Regions from separate parts of the Homo sapiens genome. Here region 2 is linked to region 1. The links come from fine-mapping of genetic effects on gene expression. A gene starts in region 1. The other region holds a variant in brackets. All regions are shown on one strand. Distances are from middle to middle. Region 1 holds the start of PHTF2 (putative homeodomain transcription factor 2). Region 2 overlaps PHTF2 (putative homeodomain transcription factor 2).

Evidence for each region.
Region 2: its variant is fine-mapped to the expression of PHTF2 in whole blood (TOPMed, PIP 0.92).

The regions. Positions count from the first base shown.
Region 1 is chr7:77,795,554-77,803,896 of GRCh38, forward strand. It overlaps PHTF2 (putative homeodomain transcription factor 2), which reads left to right and starts at 3,220. Exons shown (of 19, transcript NM_001395272.1): 1 at 3,220-3,418. TMEM60 (transmembrane protein 60) reads right to left here and starts at 2,881. Exons shown (of 2, transcript NM_032936.4): 1 at 2,701-2,881. RefSeq lists an enhancer at 2,641-2,750 and a silencer at 3,161-3,300.
Region 2 is chr7:77,936,840-77,945,182 of GRCh38, forward strand. PHTF2 (putative homeodomain transcription factor 2) reads left to right here. Exons shown (of 19, transcript NM_001395272.1): 12 at 871-999; 13 at 3,191-3,463; 14 at 3,689-3,820; 15 at 5,861-5,947. Among named protein-coding and RNA genes, the nearest start is that of DDX3ILA1, 49 kb to the right of the region's middle. The variant C/T (reference allele first, on the strand shown) is at 3,403.

The DNA.
Region 1 (8,343 bases):
TATAAAAGGCACTGATAACACTGGATTTTCATATAATTTGAAACATATTCTTAAATTCTCACTTATTTTCTCATAAAAATTCTTACAAATATCTTTCTTGGTATAATAGTTTTTTTCCTTTTAACAATAGTCTCACTGATTGGTGGTGTATATATGTATTTTTTTAAGCTACTTGTTATCCATTCAATAATCAGGACCACCTAATAAACTTTTGATGTTTTGTGATTATTAGATGCTAAATTTTGGGGGCTATTTCTTATATCACTATTCTGCCTCATTGATCTATATGTTTCTCTTTTGCACTAATACTATATGACTTAGTGTTGCTCTAGGAATGTATTAATATCTGGAAGGCCTAGTATCTACTCGTTGTTCTCTTTTCTAGAATTTTTTTTTTTTTTGAGACGGAGTCTCACTCTTGTCACTCAGGTTGGAGTGCAGTGGCACGATCTCAGGTCACTGCAGCCTCTGCCTCTCGGGTTCAAGTGATCCTCCCACTTAAGTTTCCCAAGTAGCTGGGATTACAAGTGTGCGCCACCACGCCCAGCTAGTTTTTGTATTTTTAGTAGAGATGGGGTTTCACCATGTTGGCCAGGCTGATCTCGAACTCCTGACCTCAAGTGATCCACCCACCTCAGCCTCCCAAAGTGTTGGGATTACAGGTTTGAGCCACCACGCCGGCCTCTTTTCTAGAATATTTTCTATTTTGCCCTTACAGTTTTTCAATGCTAAATTTGCTGATTCTTGAAAACCTAGAATTTTGATTATGAATGCATAAAACTTAGCTTGGGATAGCATTTATTATATTTAATCTTCACATATAGGTTTATGATATGTTCCTCTACTTAAGTTTTTTATACCAACCTTTATGGCCACTTGGAAAAAGGATAAGTAGAATGGGAAATCAGAAGCCAGACTGCATGCAGCTGGGTAAGGAGTTAACAGAAGACCAAGAAATGGAAACAATTGAGAACATTTTATTCCTTTGAGGCATTTGGAGAAGAGAAAAATGAAAGATAGGGTATATGAAACTGAAAGAAGAAATTTTCAGGAAAGGAAGAATTTATGACTATAAACAGAAATAAGCCAATGGGGAATGACACTGAAGATGAGAGAGGATACTTGATGGAAAGAGAAAAAGATCAGAAGGTGCTAGGGATAGGAACAAAAGCATGCGTGGTAGGAGGAAAGATGCAGGAAGATAACAGGGAAAAGGTGAAGGAACTGGCTAATTGAGCCAAATACCCTAGATTAGCGTGCTCAATTATATTTTAGAACTAACTTTGATGTACTGTGCAACATCTCTACTACTTTAAATAGTGGGTGGCTATCACAGTGCAAGAGGACACATCTGTTCTATTTCAACAGTTAAGTATTAGTCTCCTAACTCACCTCTTTTCCCTTATACCCATCTAGTGGCACTTAAACTTGTTTACTTAATTGGCAAAGGCTTCATACTGCAGTAATTTTGCTTCTAAGGAGGCATTTTTCTGTGTTGGTTTCCTTTCCCGGCCAGAGGCTGCCATAGAGTGGGATGTGGGACTGAATTTGGAAGCAGGGTTGGAGGGGTGTGTGTTGATTAATAACCATGGATGGATTTCATCCCGTAAATTGCACAATCCCCACCTCCAATCTATCAGGCCGTTTTTGTGAACCTCTGAAAAACGGTTTATGATTATACACTTGCTTAAACCTAACTGTTCCATCTGCTATCGGATAAGACAAGCTTCATTTTTTTCTTACATTTGGCTGTACTTACCACAGGTGCTTTAGGGCTGGAGGTGAAAGGATGCAAGTAACAATCTTATTGTGCCTACAAGATTTATAATGTGGGATGCAACAAAATTCTGTTATGTTCTTGCACGGAAATACCCTCAATGGGGAAGCACTGCTGATACTTAAATGACGATTGAAGGATTGTACGCCTGTATGCTGAGCTACAACGATGACATACGATCCCAGTTTTACATTTACGTCTTCATCAATTTGAGCAGTCGTTATGTTTCCTACTATTCTCTCCACAAGAAAGGGGGAGGTGCGTACTCCAAAAATGTGCTCAACTAAAATGTTTCCCATTTAAGGTGGTTATTTCTGGCACTAGGAAGACAGTTAAATATTTGTTAATGATTCCTTACTCATTTTTAAAACCTTCGGAGTTACCCCTGTATGGACATATATAGAGCCCCACCCACATAGCCCACGGCTGGGTATCAGCCCCCATTTCCCTTCTCTCGCCACTGCCAGTAGTCTACCAAGTGAACCTGCCTCATCCCAAAGATAATTTTGCTTCATGAGCCCACATATTTATTCTTCTTCATAATGAGTCGCTTTTGAAAAGCCCGTGCAGCAACAGCCTTGGCCAAAGGAACAGCGTTCTGCTTACAACTTAGCTCATCTGGGGGCCTATTTGCCCCTGGAACTTCAGGACGCTCCTAAACTATACTTGCCCTTCTGCAAACACCGACAGTCGGCTCGCGGCGCCCCACCGGGACGCTCCCCTTTCATGGGCTGTAAGCCCAGCACATGCTGGAGTTTAACACGGTTCCTGCTGGATGCGCACAGAAGCCCTGGAGCCAAGCAGGCGTGTGCGCGTTTGGGGCTGGCTGTGTGATGGGTTGAGGGTCGGCCGCACAGCCCACGGAAGCATCAGGAGACCAGCGCCGGCGTACGGTGCGGGCTAGGGCAGAGCCCCAGACTCACCTGGCAGCGCTGCCGGCCGGAAAGCGGAGAGGGACGCGAAGATCAGCAAATTCGCCAGTTTGGATCCTTGTCCTTTTCCGCCCTTTTCCCCCCATTAAATCCAGAACCCGTCACATGATAATTAAGAAAAAACTTCAGTTCCGCCTCCTCAAACGACTGCGGTAGAGGATCTCTCAGTTCTACCTCAGTGCCGCGCCCACATCCGGGGCTGGTTCTCACCGCCCCTGAGCCTACCCTATAGGTAGAGAGGACGCCAATCTGGATTCAGAGGTCCCTTTTCCGCGGTAATTGGACCATTTGTCCGCCAGTGCAAACCAACCGACCTTTCCTTACTTTCGGGTTCGACAGAAAGGCGGCAATAAAAAGACCCATTGGTCCCGCCTCTCTACTGTCACGGGTTAGTAGGGAAGTCAGTCCAAGATCAGCCTGGAGTTTCCGTGCTCCCATTGGGCCCACAGATGTTAATCAGAGCAGCCGGCGCTCAGCTCCGCCCTCTCGGGACGCCCCGCCCCTCCTCCCATCCTCCCTGCCCGCGCGCAGTGACTGCAGGCTCCGGCGCAAAATCCTGCGGGAGAGGGGGTGGGGCAACCCTCTGGAGGCAGCGCGCCCGCGGGCAGCCTCGTTGTGGCTCCTTGGGCTCTGTTGGCGGCGGCGCTAGCTTCGGAGTCTCCCGCGCGCACCTCAGCCGCCTCCTAGCGGCGCGGCGCTCGCTCCTACGGTAAGAGCGGCATCACCTCCGCGCTCGGGTGGGCAGTGTGGAGGTCGTCGAGTTCTGACAGAATTTCGAGGATGGATCGGGACGAGGGAGGAGAGCGGTCGTCGGGATGGAGGTGGGGGCTCCGGGGCCAACGCGTCGCCCTCCGTCGCCGGCGACTTTCCCGGCAGTCTCCCGTACCTGAGGGCCGGGGTCAGCCGCGACCCCTTCTCATCAGTCGGCCGGTGGCGGAGGCTCAGCCGCCTTCCTCCCGAGCTCGCGCGGTCCTCAAGTCTTGATGGTGACGGGCCGAAGCCCAGCGCGCCACCCGCCCCTCGGGCCCCGCTTCCAGGCCCCTGTCCTTTGCTTCCTTCCCTTGGCGCTGTGCTGAGGGGTCGTCGGGTCCTGGAAGGGCGTTCAGGGGTCTCGGGTGGCTAGCCCGGCTGGCGGGGAGATGTCAGCTAGCGGCCGGAGGAGCGGGCTCGGGAGGGGGCGGCGGCTCGCGCGCTGGAGGAGGTGGAAGGAGGGTCGCTGCCCTGCCCCCTCTGAGCAGGCGGCAGTCGAGTTTTCTGATCCCAACACGGCGGAGTGGGTGCTTAAGGCATGGGCCTTAAGGGATAGTTCCCGTCTGGAAACAATACCGTGCTCCATCAGCATGCTTCAGCTTTTCTTATTTTTATCTGCCCAGTGTTGACAGCCAGCATTCTGGTATTGTCCTTCGAGTCATGGCTTTCTAACTCAGCACCTCCTTGTGTAACTTCAGGGATCATTCTGTCACTAATCTGTCACCCTTCTTATTTTTAGCGTGGCGAAAACAAGGAACTGCCTTATACTAACCTGGGCAGTGCAGAATCTGGAACAATTTATTAATCTCAGTGTGTACTTTACATGCCAAGTAATTTTGAAATTCATGGTGAATATTAAATATTTTGTAGTTTTCGGTTGCTTTCTTTGTTAATAGTATATCCTCCTTGCTTTGAGACTACTTTTCAGGTGTGATACTTTAATCTTAAGGTTTTTGGTTAGCTTTTGCCATTTTTAAACGTTTCTTTCATTTTTTTTTTCTCCAAGACTTTGGCAAGAGACTTAGTATTTGATCTTGTTTTCAGGTATTTTTGTAAAGTTTATTTTCTTTCAAACTGGGCTTTTTTCACCATATTTTTAATATTGGAAGGGGAATTCTGAAAGTCTGGAAACTGCACACTTTAGCCTAAAGAGTCACAAAACAGTATAACAATTTGAAATCCTAACTTGGATATGGTGTATGGACTGCAAATTTTAAGAGAAGGAAATGGATATGCGTTATCAGTTGTAGTGGCTCCACCTCCATAACGTAGAGGAGAGGAATCTGGAGGTCTGCGGAGAATGAGCCATGTCTGGGGCCAGAAACAGTGGTTCCAGGAAATATTTTTGCCCCAGAAATAGCCTGCCTCCCACACAGACTGGCTGTCTGAATGCATCTGATAGTTTTAAGTTAGGTGTTAGTGAGGTGGAGAGTTTTCGTGTTCCAATTTTGACCACTTTCTGGTGGAGCATGAAAATGTGGTGAGTAAACAAGTATAGTATACAATGGGGGCACTCTTGCATAGATAGTCAAGCCTCCAAGAGTAAACTTTTTTTGAGCCCAAACTGGCACTGGACAGTTGGCCCTAAAAATGAAGAAGGTGGCCCACCCAATTTTTAAACCATGAACTTTTTTTGGCTGGTCCATTTAATGCAAAATTGCAAGGAATATGTAATGAAAAAAACCTTCACTAAACTGAAGAGAATTTAGGGTGTCATGTGGATAAAATGAAACTCGAAAATAGTTGGACTACTTGTATATTATTTAATCATTTTAGTCCTGTGAGATGGGTACTGATTACTGTCATTTTATAGATGAGCAAACCAAGACTTAGTTTAACTAATTTGTTCAAGATTTCTTCACAAATGAGTCAGTAGAGGTGAGATTCACACCTAAGCAGTCTGATTCCAAAGCCTACATTCCAAGCCATTATACTTTATTACCACAATAAAATTGGCTTCTTGGAGACTTTATAGTAGGAGACTACTCAGTGGAAAATAACACTGCAAAACCGTAAATTGAATCCACTATTGTACACAGTAACACTTTGAGATCATTGTATAATAGGCACTGTTGGATTTTGCTGAAGATAAAGGGATGGAGTCACCTTCTCTGTGTTTGAGGAGCATTCATTTGATGGGAGAAATAGATATTTGAACAAATGACGATAATACAATATATACAGATTGAGCATCTGTAAACTGAAAATCTGAAATGCTCTAAAATCTGGAACCTTTTGAGTGCCAAGATGATGCCACAAGACACTTGACTTCATGTGACAGGTTACAGTCAAGCTGGGTGCGGTGGCTCACGCCCGTAATCCCAGCACTTTGGGAGGCCAAGGCGGGTGGATCACCTGAGGTCAGGAGTTCAAGACCAGCCTGACCAATATGAAACCCCGTCTCTACTAAAAATACAAAAAAAATTAGCCGGGCGTGGTGGTATGCACCTGTAGTCCCAGCTACTCGGGAGGCTGATACAGGAGAATCGCTTGAACCCAGGAGGTGGAGGTTGCAGTGAGCCGAGATCGCACCACTGCACTTGGCCTGGGTGACAGAGCAAGACACCGTCTCAAAAACAAAAACAAAACAAAACAAAAAAACAGTCAAAACTTAGCTTCATGCACAGAATTATTTTAAAATGTTATATAAAATTACCTTTGGGCTATTTGTATAAGGTGTAAATGAAACATAAATGAATTTTGTGTTTAGACTTGAGTCCCATCTCTAAGATATCTCTTTATGTATATGCAAATATTACAAAATCCAAAATCCAAAATGCTTGTGGTCCCAATAATTCTTGAGACAAGAATTCAGTTAAAGTATAGACAGTCTGGATTTGAATTCCTATCAGGCTTTGTGACTTTGAACATAACACCAAACCTCTTTTAGCATCAGTTTCCTTATCTGTTTAATGGAAAGGGCAATACTTCAAAGAAGACATTAAGCCTTAAATAAAATATATAAAGTACGGGCACATAGAAAGCAGTGAATACAAAAGAAACAATAAATAATTTTAAGAGAGAACTAGTTGGGTTTCAGGGGAGCTACCACTGAAGCCTTAAAGGTCTGAAGGTGGTGTTTGTAGGTGGAGAAAGAGGGCATTCCATGCAGAACAGGAAGAGGCAGAGTCTCAGAACAGAAATATGGATTGTTTAGGGAATGGTAAGTAATTGTAGCTTTGTATAAAATGTATGTGTGAAGGCCAGCTTTAAATGATAATGGTATGTAAATGTGGTTGGGCAAAGTGAGTACTACCCAATTTTGATAATTGGAAATTGCATACTTAGATACTAAAATTATAGGAAAACCTCAGCAGTTTGTCCATTATTACATGTTTATTTAATATTCACCTTCCAATACTTACTTTCCCAGTTCAAATTAAGACTCAAAGAAGAATTCCAAAATGATGGTTGCCATCCCTTAACCCCTTTACCTAGCCTGTAGCCACATGGAGTCATTATTGTGAACTCCCCTTTGCATATATTTTGACTGTCTTTTCTTAATCCCTACTTGATACATGATAGTGGGACAGAGTTTTTTTATTTTGAGACAGGGTCTCATTCTGTCTTCCAGGTTGGAGTACAGTAGTGTAATTACTGTAACCTTGAACTCCCAGGCTCAGGCAATCCTGTTGCCTTAGCCTCCTGAGTAGCTAGACCTGCAGGCATGCACCACTGTGTCCAGCTAATGTTTTAATTTTTATTTTTTTGTACATACAGGGTCTTGCTATGTTGGCCAGGCTAGAGACCTCAAGTGATTTTCCCATCTTGGCCTACCAAAGTCCTGGGATTACAGATATAAGCCACCACTCCTGGCCAGTGTGTTTTAAATTGGGACTGCCCTTGAAAATCTGAGAAAGTCTCGTGCTTCTATCTTCTTCTCAGATTAATACCAAACCATAAATACGTTAAATTTACAAATCTGAAACATCACTTGATGACCAGAATCATATGACTAAGTGGAAAATATTAAGTGACATTTAGGAAAACTGCATTTTTAGTCCACTTTGTTATTCTCATGAAAATTGCTAATGTGACACAAAATATAGAAGTGAGTTTTCAGATGAGAACAACTGATTGCTTCCTGGAACAGGTAGTTTTAGAGCACTAGGAATGAAAATATGCTGGATTTTATTCTGGGTACTGAACAGGAACTGGGGCAGGAAATAGCTGTGGCTGAACCACTACCTGATAATAATCATAACATGATTAAATTTGACATTTAATGAGAGGAAGTAAAGGGAAAAGTGCATAGTATGCAGCTTTCCAGTTGCAAAAACAGTACAAGAAAGGGGCTGTTAAAAGTATATCTACAGAAATTTTAAAGACATGTAGGCATTCATATTTGTTGCATGAATGAAAGTACTTTTGTAAGACCTTTTGTATAGGATTTGTTACAGATACCAGAAAATTTATGAAAATTAGGTGGCACAAGTTTTGGTGCTCTGTAGACCTAGGTTCAAGTCCTGATACTGCCATCACTGGTTGTGTGACATTGGACTCATTATGTAATATTTTTGAGGTTCAGTTTTATTTATTCTTTAAATGGAGTTACCTACTTTGCGAGATTTTAAGAATTAAATGAGATAATGTATGTAAAGCACTTGACATATTCTTGATTTCTAAGACTAGCTCAAAAAGTGGTTGTTGCAGTTATTTGACTGAGTTGAACAGGCGTGTGTGTGTGTGTGTGTGTGTGTGTGTGTGTGTGTGTAGGTTTTAAAATAACAATTTCCAGATAGAATAAGAGAAGCCAGAAAATGGCAAACAAGCAAATAAAACCTTAAAGGGAGGCAATAGGATTCAACCGGCAGAGTTGAATAATCATTTTACCCACACAAAAGAAGGGAAAATATAGGAAGAGAGCTTCACATTATCAACTTT
Region 2 (8,343 bases), 140 kb after region 1:
TTAACTCAACTGTTCTGTTTTGGGGCTGGGCGCAGTGGTTCACACCTGTAATCCCAGCACTTTGGGAGGTAGAGGCCGGTGGATCACCTGAGGTCAGGAGTTAGAGACCAGCCTGGCCAACATGGTGAAACCCCGTCTCTACTAAAAATAAAAAAATTAGCCAGGCATGGTGGCAGGTGCCTGTAGTCCGAGCTACTCAGGAGGCTGAGTGCTTCAGTTTTGTAATATTTGCTTTATCTGGAAAAAAAAAAAAAGTTAAATGGGTCCTTTGGAGAAATGCTGGATTAAAATATCAGAAAAGTAACTAAATCAGATATTAAACGTTAAATATGTAAGGAAGAGTCTTTTTTGGGATAAGACTAGCACTATATGGTCTTTCAAAGAGATTCAAATCTCAGCTGTCATATTCTTTTTTAATGATCATAAGTTGGACAATGATTACTATGAACAAGTTGATATCCATTTGTCTTTTAGCATTAGTATATTGCAGCTGTGTAGACTGACAACTAAGTACTTTTGCTGACATGTTTTAGTATATTTTTGAACATAGGTTGACTAATACTTGTTACAGAAAGTTCTCAACTTGTACAGTTTCATAACCATGTAACTTCTTATGATATCTGTTCAGTGTATATGCTAACTAATTTTAAGATAGAATTTTAGTGTCTTAGAGTTGTGTGTATAAATATATTAGCTGTGCACAGATCTATATATTCCATTTATAAAACATGATAAATATATTCACCAATTTTTATTTTTAGTGTCATTAAAATTGTGTGTGTATATAGAGATATATATACAACTTTATATACACACATTTTATTTATTAAATGTGATCTATATATTTACTAATTTTTTTTTTTTTTATAGAGTCATTTGCCCTGGCTCCATAGTTCCCACCCAGGATTAGAAAAAATAAGTGCTATAGTATGGGAAGGTAATGATTGTAAGAAAGCAGACATGTCTGTACTTGAAATCAGTGGAATGATAATGAACAGAGTGAGTTTTTAAATTTTATTCTTGTAGTTCAAGGGTAAGACTTAGTAATTATATATAAGATAATTACTGGAATATTATATTAGTAACCTTCTGACCTCATTTCTTCACCCTGAAAAAAAAGTTACATGTGTGTATTTGTTTCTGTCTGTAATTTAAACAGTGATTTGTCACCAAACCACTCTCATCTTCTAGTGTTTTCACTTATCTGACCAAGAATAGATGATACGGTCTATAATTTTTCTCTTTTATCTTTTTCTTTCTTTTGAAATTCAGGAGCTTGTTAGATATATACAGGTGTTAATAAAGACTTTTCTTTGGACTAGAGATTGTTGTTACAAGAACTTTAAAAATAAAAAAATAATTAAAAAGACTTATTTTTCTGTATCATTCTTACTGGTTCATTTGTTTAATAGGACTTAAGACATGAAAAAATCAAACTAGTAAATTTGCATTCATACTTGCTTACCTACTTAAATATATAGAAGTAATGCAGATAGTGGTAAAAGTCTTGAGTAGTTCAAAGAAGTCTAATTGAAATACTGTGGATTAAAATTTTATTTTCTATTATTTCTTTTTTCAGATAATTACTGATTTTTAAAATGTGTTGATTGGCCGGGCGCGGTGGCTCACGCCTGTAATCCCAGCACTTTGGGAGGCTGAGGCGGGCGGATCACAAGGTCAGGAGATCGAGACCATCCTGGCTAACATGGTGAAACCCCGTCTCTACTAAAAATACAAAAAAATTAGCCAGGCGTGGTGAAACCCTGTCTCTACTAAAAATACAAAAAATTAGCCGGGCGTGGTGGCGGGCGCCTGTAGTCCCAGCTACTCGGGAGGCTGAGGCAGGAGAATGGCATTAACCTGGGAGGCGGAGCTTGCAGTGAGCCAAGATCACGCCACTGCACTCCAGCCTGGGCGACAGAGCGAGACTCCGTCTCAAAAAATAAATAAATAAAAATAAAATAAAATAAAATGTGTTGATTTCTCTGGACTTGTTTTTAACTTGCAATTTCTAAATTTCTTTGGTGCATTATTGTGCTTGAACTCTTCTCCACACTTTGTGTAAGACAGGAATTATAATAACTGGGTCTAGAAATTGATAATACTCCCTATAACATATCTCAGTGTGAGCAATTAAAAGCAGTTGACGGGGAAGTCTCTGGAATCTTGGATCTAGTTTGTGCTCTGTAACTTAATTACCTGTGAATTGGCAGATCACTTAACTTACAATGGTCTCATTTATCTAATATATATTATAAAAAGTTGGCTACATGATAGTTAAGATCTCTTTTAGTTCTGCCAGTCTAGCATACTGGAAGCTTTTATATTGTCCCATTATCTAATTTCCTTTTTTAAAATAATTCCCTCACCTTTTTCCCTTTCTGTTTAATTTCTTCTTCCTTCTATCATCTCTCTTCTAAAATGCTTTTAGAGTTTAAGGAGACACTTATTTATATATTGGACTATTCAAAGAGAAATGTAAGCGGCTGGGTGTGTTGGCTTATGCCTGTAATCTCAACACTTTGGGAGCTAGAGGAGGGATGATCGCTTGAGCCCAGGAGTTAAAGACCAGCCTGAGCAACATAGTGAAACCCTGTCTTTACATCTCTACAAAACCCAAAAAATTAGCTGGGGGCGGTGGTGTATACCTGTAGTCCCAGCTACTAGGAATGCTGAGTTGGGAGGGATCACTTGAGCCCATTATTGTGCCACTGTACTCCAGCCTGGGCAATAGAGTGAGACCCTGTCTCAAAAAAAAAAAAAAAAAAAGAAAACAGAAAGAAAACCTCAAGTTACAAATGTACAAACGTATGAAATAAGTGTAATGCTGAGTTTTTTCTTCAATGAACTGAATTTCAGTGGATATGAGATCTCATTCTCTTTAATATTGCAGTATTTATGAATATTTCTAACTTGAAATAATGAAATACATAAATTTTTTTCAAGATCTGGATGACAGTCCTTTTGCCATCTACTTAGTAAATTAGCGATCTGATAATTGTTTTTAAGATCTGAAGAATTAATGACATTTTATATGTAGTAGGCTCTCAAACTTGAATGGGATTCAAATTACTCAGAATGAGTATATTTTAACAAATGATTTCATATTGCTATAAATAATTCTACTGTAGATAAAATTTATGGTATAATTTTATTTTTCTTTTCTCTCTCTTCCCCTGGCTCCCTCAAGGTGAACAGCCATATACCAGGAATAGGATACCAGATTTTTGGAAATGCAGTCTCTCTCATACTGGGTTTAACTCCATTTGTTTTCCGACTTTCTCAAGCTACAGACTTGGAACAACTCACAGCACATTCTGCTTCAGAACTTTATGTGATTGCATTTGGTTCTAATGAAGATGTCATAGTTCTTTCTATGGTTATAATAAGTTTTGTGGTTCG[C/T]GTGTCTCTTGTGTGGATTTTCTTTTTTTTGCTCTGTGTAGCAGAAAGAACTTATAAACAGGTGGGTATAATGTAGACTTCCGAATAAGAATATTTTATCGTTTTCATAATATTAAAAGTATTCCTGAAGTACTTTATTATTTCATTATATCATTTTTACCTAATTATTTTTTATTTTGCTTTTATAGTACCTAACCAAATAAAATCTTAACAATTCATATTTTGTTAATTTTGTTTTTCTGTGGTAATCTACTTGAAAATTAATCCTCATCTTAATCTTTTTTAGCGATTACTTTTTGCAAAACTCTTTGGACATTTAACATCTGCAAGGAGGGCTCGAAAATCTGAGGTTCCTCATTTCCGGTTGAAGAAAGTACAGAATATAAAAATGTGGCTATCTCTCCGTTCCTATCTTAAGGTAGAATGGGAGTGATAAAAGTAGCTTTAACATGCTGGCCCTTTCTGATAGTTCCAGTTTCTTTATCAATATATATTTGTCTCTAGATGTATAGTAACCAGCTTTTACTCATTCAAAAACTGGATTAGGGATTTTGTTTCTACTAGCCTGGTTGTCACAAGCCAGCAGAGGGAGCCCACTACTTAAAAAAGAATTTAAAAAAAATAACCAATGAGTTTCCTCACAGAAGTGACCTATTACTATTTTAAAATATTAGTTTGCAATTCAGTGTCATTCTTTTCATGTCATTATTTTCCTTTAATCTTTTGAGTAATTTTCCTAATTATGGAAGTATGATATAAAAACTCTGGAGGGAAGAGGGAAACATCTAAATTGGTTTTAGGAAAACACTTTTTTTCTGAGGATTACTTCTTGTTATTGCATTAAGTAGCAGTAGAATGTCATTATATATGGAGTAATCATGCAAATTCCAATGATATTTATTCACAGCACTGTCTGTATCTTAGTAAAGTTGACCTGAAGACCAATCATCCTCTGACATACCTAGATCTTTAATGCTTTATATTTTGAAATAATAATCAAAGAAGCCCTAATAATAATAATGCCCTATTTCTCTACTCTTATATTTAAAAAATTCATTGTTCTGTTTATTAATTTAACTTGTTAAATTTAGCTTACTTAGTGTCACTGCTGCAAATTGGCATGGATATTTTTTTCCTATGACATATCTGTTGTATGGAGGGATGAATCTGATCGCTTGAATTCGTCCAAAATTTCCTCCATTGTCAACCCTAAGCAGGTGTTACATTCTTTTGTACATTGATTATTTTATTCCGTAAACACTTATTTATGTTAACCATGTGCCATTCATTGTTGATGAGATGAAAGCCCCTACCCTCATACGTAAGCTTATACTTCAGTGAGGGAATGTAAGCCCAGACCTAGGAATTATCCTAGTTTAATCTCTAGTCTCCAATTTATCACCAATTCCTATCTTTTCTGCTCCCAAAATATATCTTGAATCCATTTGCTTCTCTTTGTTCCATTTCTGCCACCCTCATTGAAACCATCAATCATCTTCTACCTCATGCTACTTCAGTTACCTCTTACCTGGCATTCCAGCATTCACATTTCTTCTTTTCATTCCTTTCTTCAGTCTGCCACCAGTGATCATTTAAAAATGTATATTTGGCCCTATATTCTTAAAACTTTTTGGAGGTTCTTCATTTCTCTTAAGATAAAGCACAAAATCTTAACAAGGTTTATAATGCCCTTTATGATCTAAGTTCTCCCTTATTCACCTGTCTTTTGTTTCATTTTGAAACACTCTCCTTCCTAGTCCACTACATTCCAACCATTTTAGACTGCTTCCGTTCTTTACATGAGCTGTGATCTGTCCTGCTTTATGTTCTTGCACATGCCCTTCCTTCTACCTAGAACACTGCTGTGTGCCATCATGCCCCTGCCCCTCCCCCTTAGTTTGGTGTAAATATCACTTCCTTAGGGAGATCTTCACAGGCCCGCACTCCTAACCCTCAAATCTAAATGAAGTCTCCCTGCCAAGTATCTCAAAGCATCCTATGTCTTTCCCTTTTAGCACTCATCACAATTTATCACATATATCTGTGATTATTAACTTGATGTCTCACTCCCCTCCTAGTTCCTGTGAAGGTAGAGGGACCATGTGTTGTTCTCTGTTGTATTTGTAGCACCCAGCACAGTATCTAGTGCTAAGCAGGTGCTTAAGAAATATTTGTCGAATAAATGACTTGTGTTTGACAAAATGAAGTATTTGAAAGTTATACCAATAATTTTATGCTATATAAATATAGATACCCTTTTAACTCTGTTGCAATTCCTCAGGAAATCATAACACTATCATTAAAATTTGCCTAACAAATTAGGTATATTCAACATTGTGGGCTGTGATCAACTGATGGTGATGAGTCAACACCTTTATTGAAACCATGGAAATTATCTGCTGATTAGTAAATATATTTTAAAATGTTTCCTTTTCTCCCTTCCACCCACACCCTGCAGCGTCGAGGTCCTCAGCGATCAGTTGATGTAATAGTTTCATCTGCTTTCTTATTGACTATCTCAGTTGTATTTATCTGTTGTGCCCAGGTGAGTTAACTCGCTCCATGTAGAAATTAACCAGATATATAAATATTAACTTTCAGATTAATAAATAATCAAATAATAATATAAGTAAGCCTAGTTAGAAAGTAAGTTTTGAAGTTACCTTTTTGCAGTTTTTTTGGTAGAATAAATAAGTGCATCTTATCTCTGTGCCATGAACAGTGAGCATGTATGCTCAAATGTCTGTTGAATGAACACAGATTAATTAATTTTTGCCTAGAATCCTTCTCATTATCTTTACTTCCCAAAAGAAACGTATGAGTTATGAAATTGTCCCATGAATATCCAATTTATTCATGTTTACTATTCTTTTCTTTCTTTCTTTCTTTCTTTTTTTTGAGATGGAGTCTCGCTCTGTCGCGCAGGCGGAGTGCAGTGGCGCGATCTCGGCTCACTGCAACCTCCGCCTCCCGGGTTCACGCCATTCTCCTGCCTCAGCCTCCTGAGTAGCTGGGACTACAGGTGCCCACCACCACACCCGGCTAATTTATTTTTTGTATTTTTTTTAGTAGAGACGGGGTTTCACCGTGTTAGCCAGGATGGTCTCAATCTCCTGACCTCGTGATCTGCCCGCCTCGGCCTCCCAAAGTGCTGGGATTACAGGCGTGAGCCACAGCGCCCGACCTATTCTTTCATTTTTTATACCTGAATTGTTACTGTGACTTAACTGCTGCATACTCTGAAAAAGAATTTTTAGTGACCCAGCTTAGTTAGGGAGTACAAAAGTATCTCAGGATATGCACTGCTATAATGCAGGGGAACATGTTCTCAGGGTCTCCTGAGGGTTGTGTCATGGGCCGTGTAATATTAAAAAATAAGTTTAAACGTATTAAAATTTTAAAAACAAAAATAATAAAATATATGCAAACCTCCATTCCAAGTAGTATGATGTACTAGATTATCTGAAAATTCTTCTACTTTAAAACATCAAACAGGCCGGGCACAGTGGCTCACACCTGTAATCCCAGCCCTTTGGGAGGCCAAGGAGTGCGGATCACCTGAGGTCAGGAGTTCGAGACCAGCCCGACCAACATGGTAAAACCTCGTCTCTATTAAAAATACAAAAATTAGCCGGGCATGGTGGTAGGCGCCTGTAATCCCAGCTATTCAGGAGGCTGAGGCATGAGAATTGCTTGAACCCAGAAGGCGGAGATTGCACCACTGCACTCCAGCCTGGGGGATACAGCAAGACTCTGTCTCCAAAAACAAACAAATAAAAAAAAAAATCAAACAATGCTCGGGGGAACCCTCAGCTTTTGAATGTACATATTGTGTACATATCTGAGTTCATAAGATAATAAAGGGCCAAAAATGAAGACAAAACTGAAAACCAGAGCATTTAAGAATAAGCATTAATGCTATGGCAGCATGAGAATAAGAGAGTGAAGTACATTGCCAGTATTAGTATTGTATCCCAGAGACTTGAAATTTTATGCCCACGTAGGACAGGAGATGAGGCCTTGACCTGTGTACCTCCCTACTCACACCATGAAGTCAAACCCTCAAAGATCTACAGCCTCAGTGAAAAGTTGGATAAGAAAAACAGTCTGCTCACCAGCACTGGACGACAAGAAGGAAGCTTATCTGACTCTGGATGACAAGGACGGGGGAAAAGTCTCTTCTAAGAATATATAATTATAACTCTTCCCTTACTACAGGTTTAGGGTTCATATTGACATTATACATCTTGTCCTGTAACCCTCATGTCAAAAAGTTAATATAAAAAGTGGTCCTAGGCCCCTGGATACCTGACAGAAGCAAAACCAAGGCTGTTTGGAGGCATGCGACTTCAGCCTAGACCTCACGGGAACCACAGATAAAGCTCCTTCCGGTATCAAAACATAGGAAGAAACAGTCTAACATGAAGGAGTCAACAGATAAACCCATAGCAGGATTAGATCTCCAGCTATTTCAGTTTGATCAGGTGGAAACTAAGTTTGTTTACAGTGATGAAAGACATAGATAACACTGTGAAAAAAGAACAGATAAGTTTGAAAAAGAACTTCAGACAAATGAAAAATACAGTTATTGACTTTTGACTTGTTTTTTGCTTTTCACTGCTGGAACAAAGTCACTGACTTTTAAAACACAATGAACAGAATAAATAGCAAATTAAAGAAAGCTAAAGACATAGTGAACTGGGAGGTGAAAGAAATGACTAAAATACAGGACAGAGATAAAGAGACAGAAAATGCAAAATGGATATTTAGACATCGTGGGAGATCCAACATAGGTCTAATAAGAATTACAGGAGGAGGCTGGGTGTGGTGGCCCACGCCTGTAATCCCAGCATTTTGGGAGGCTGAGGCAGTCAGAGCACTTGAGGTCAGGAGTTCGCAAGCAGCCTGGCCAATATGGTGAAACCTCTCTCTACTGAAAAT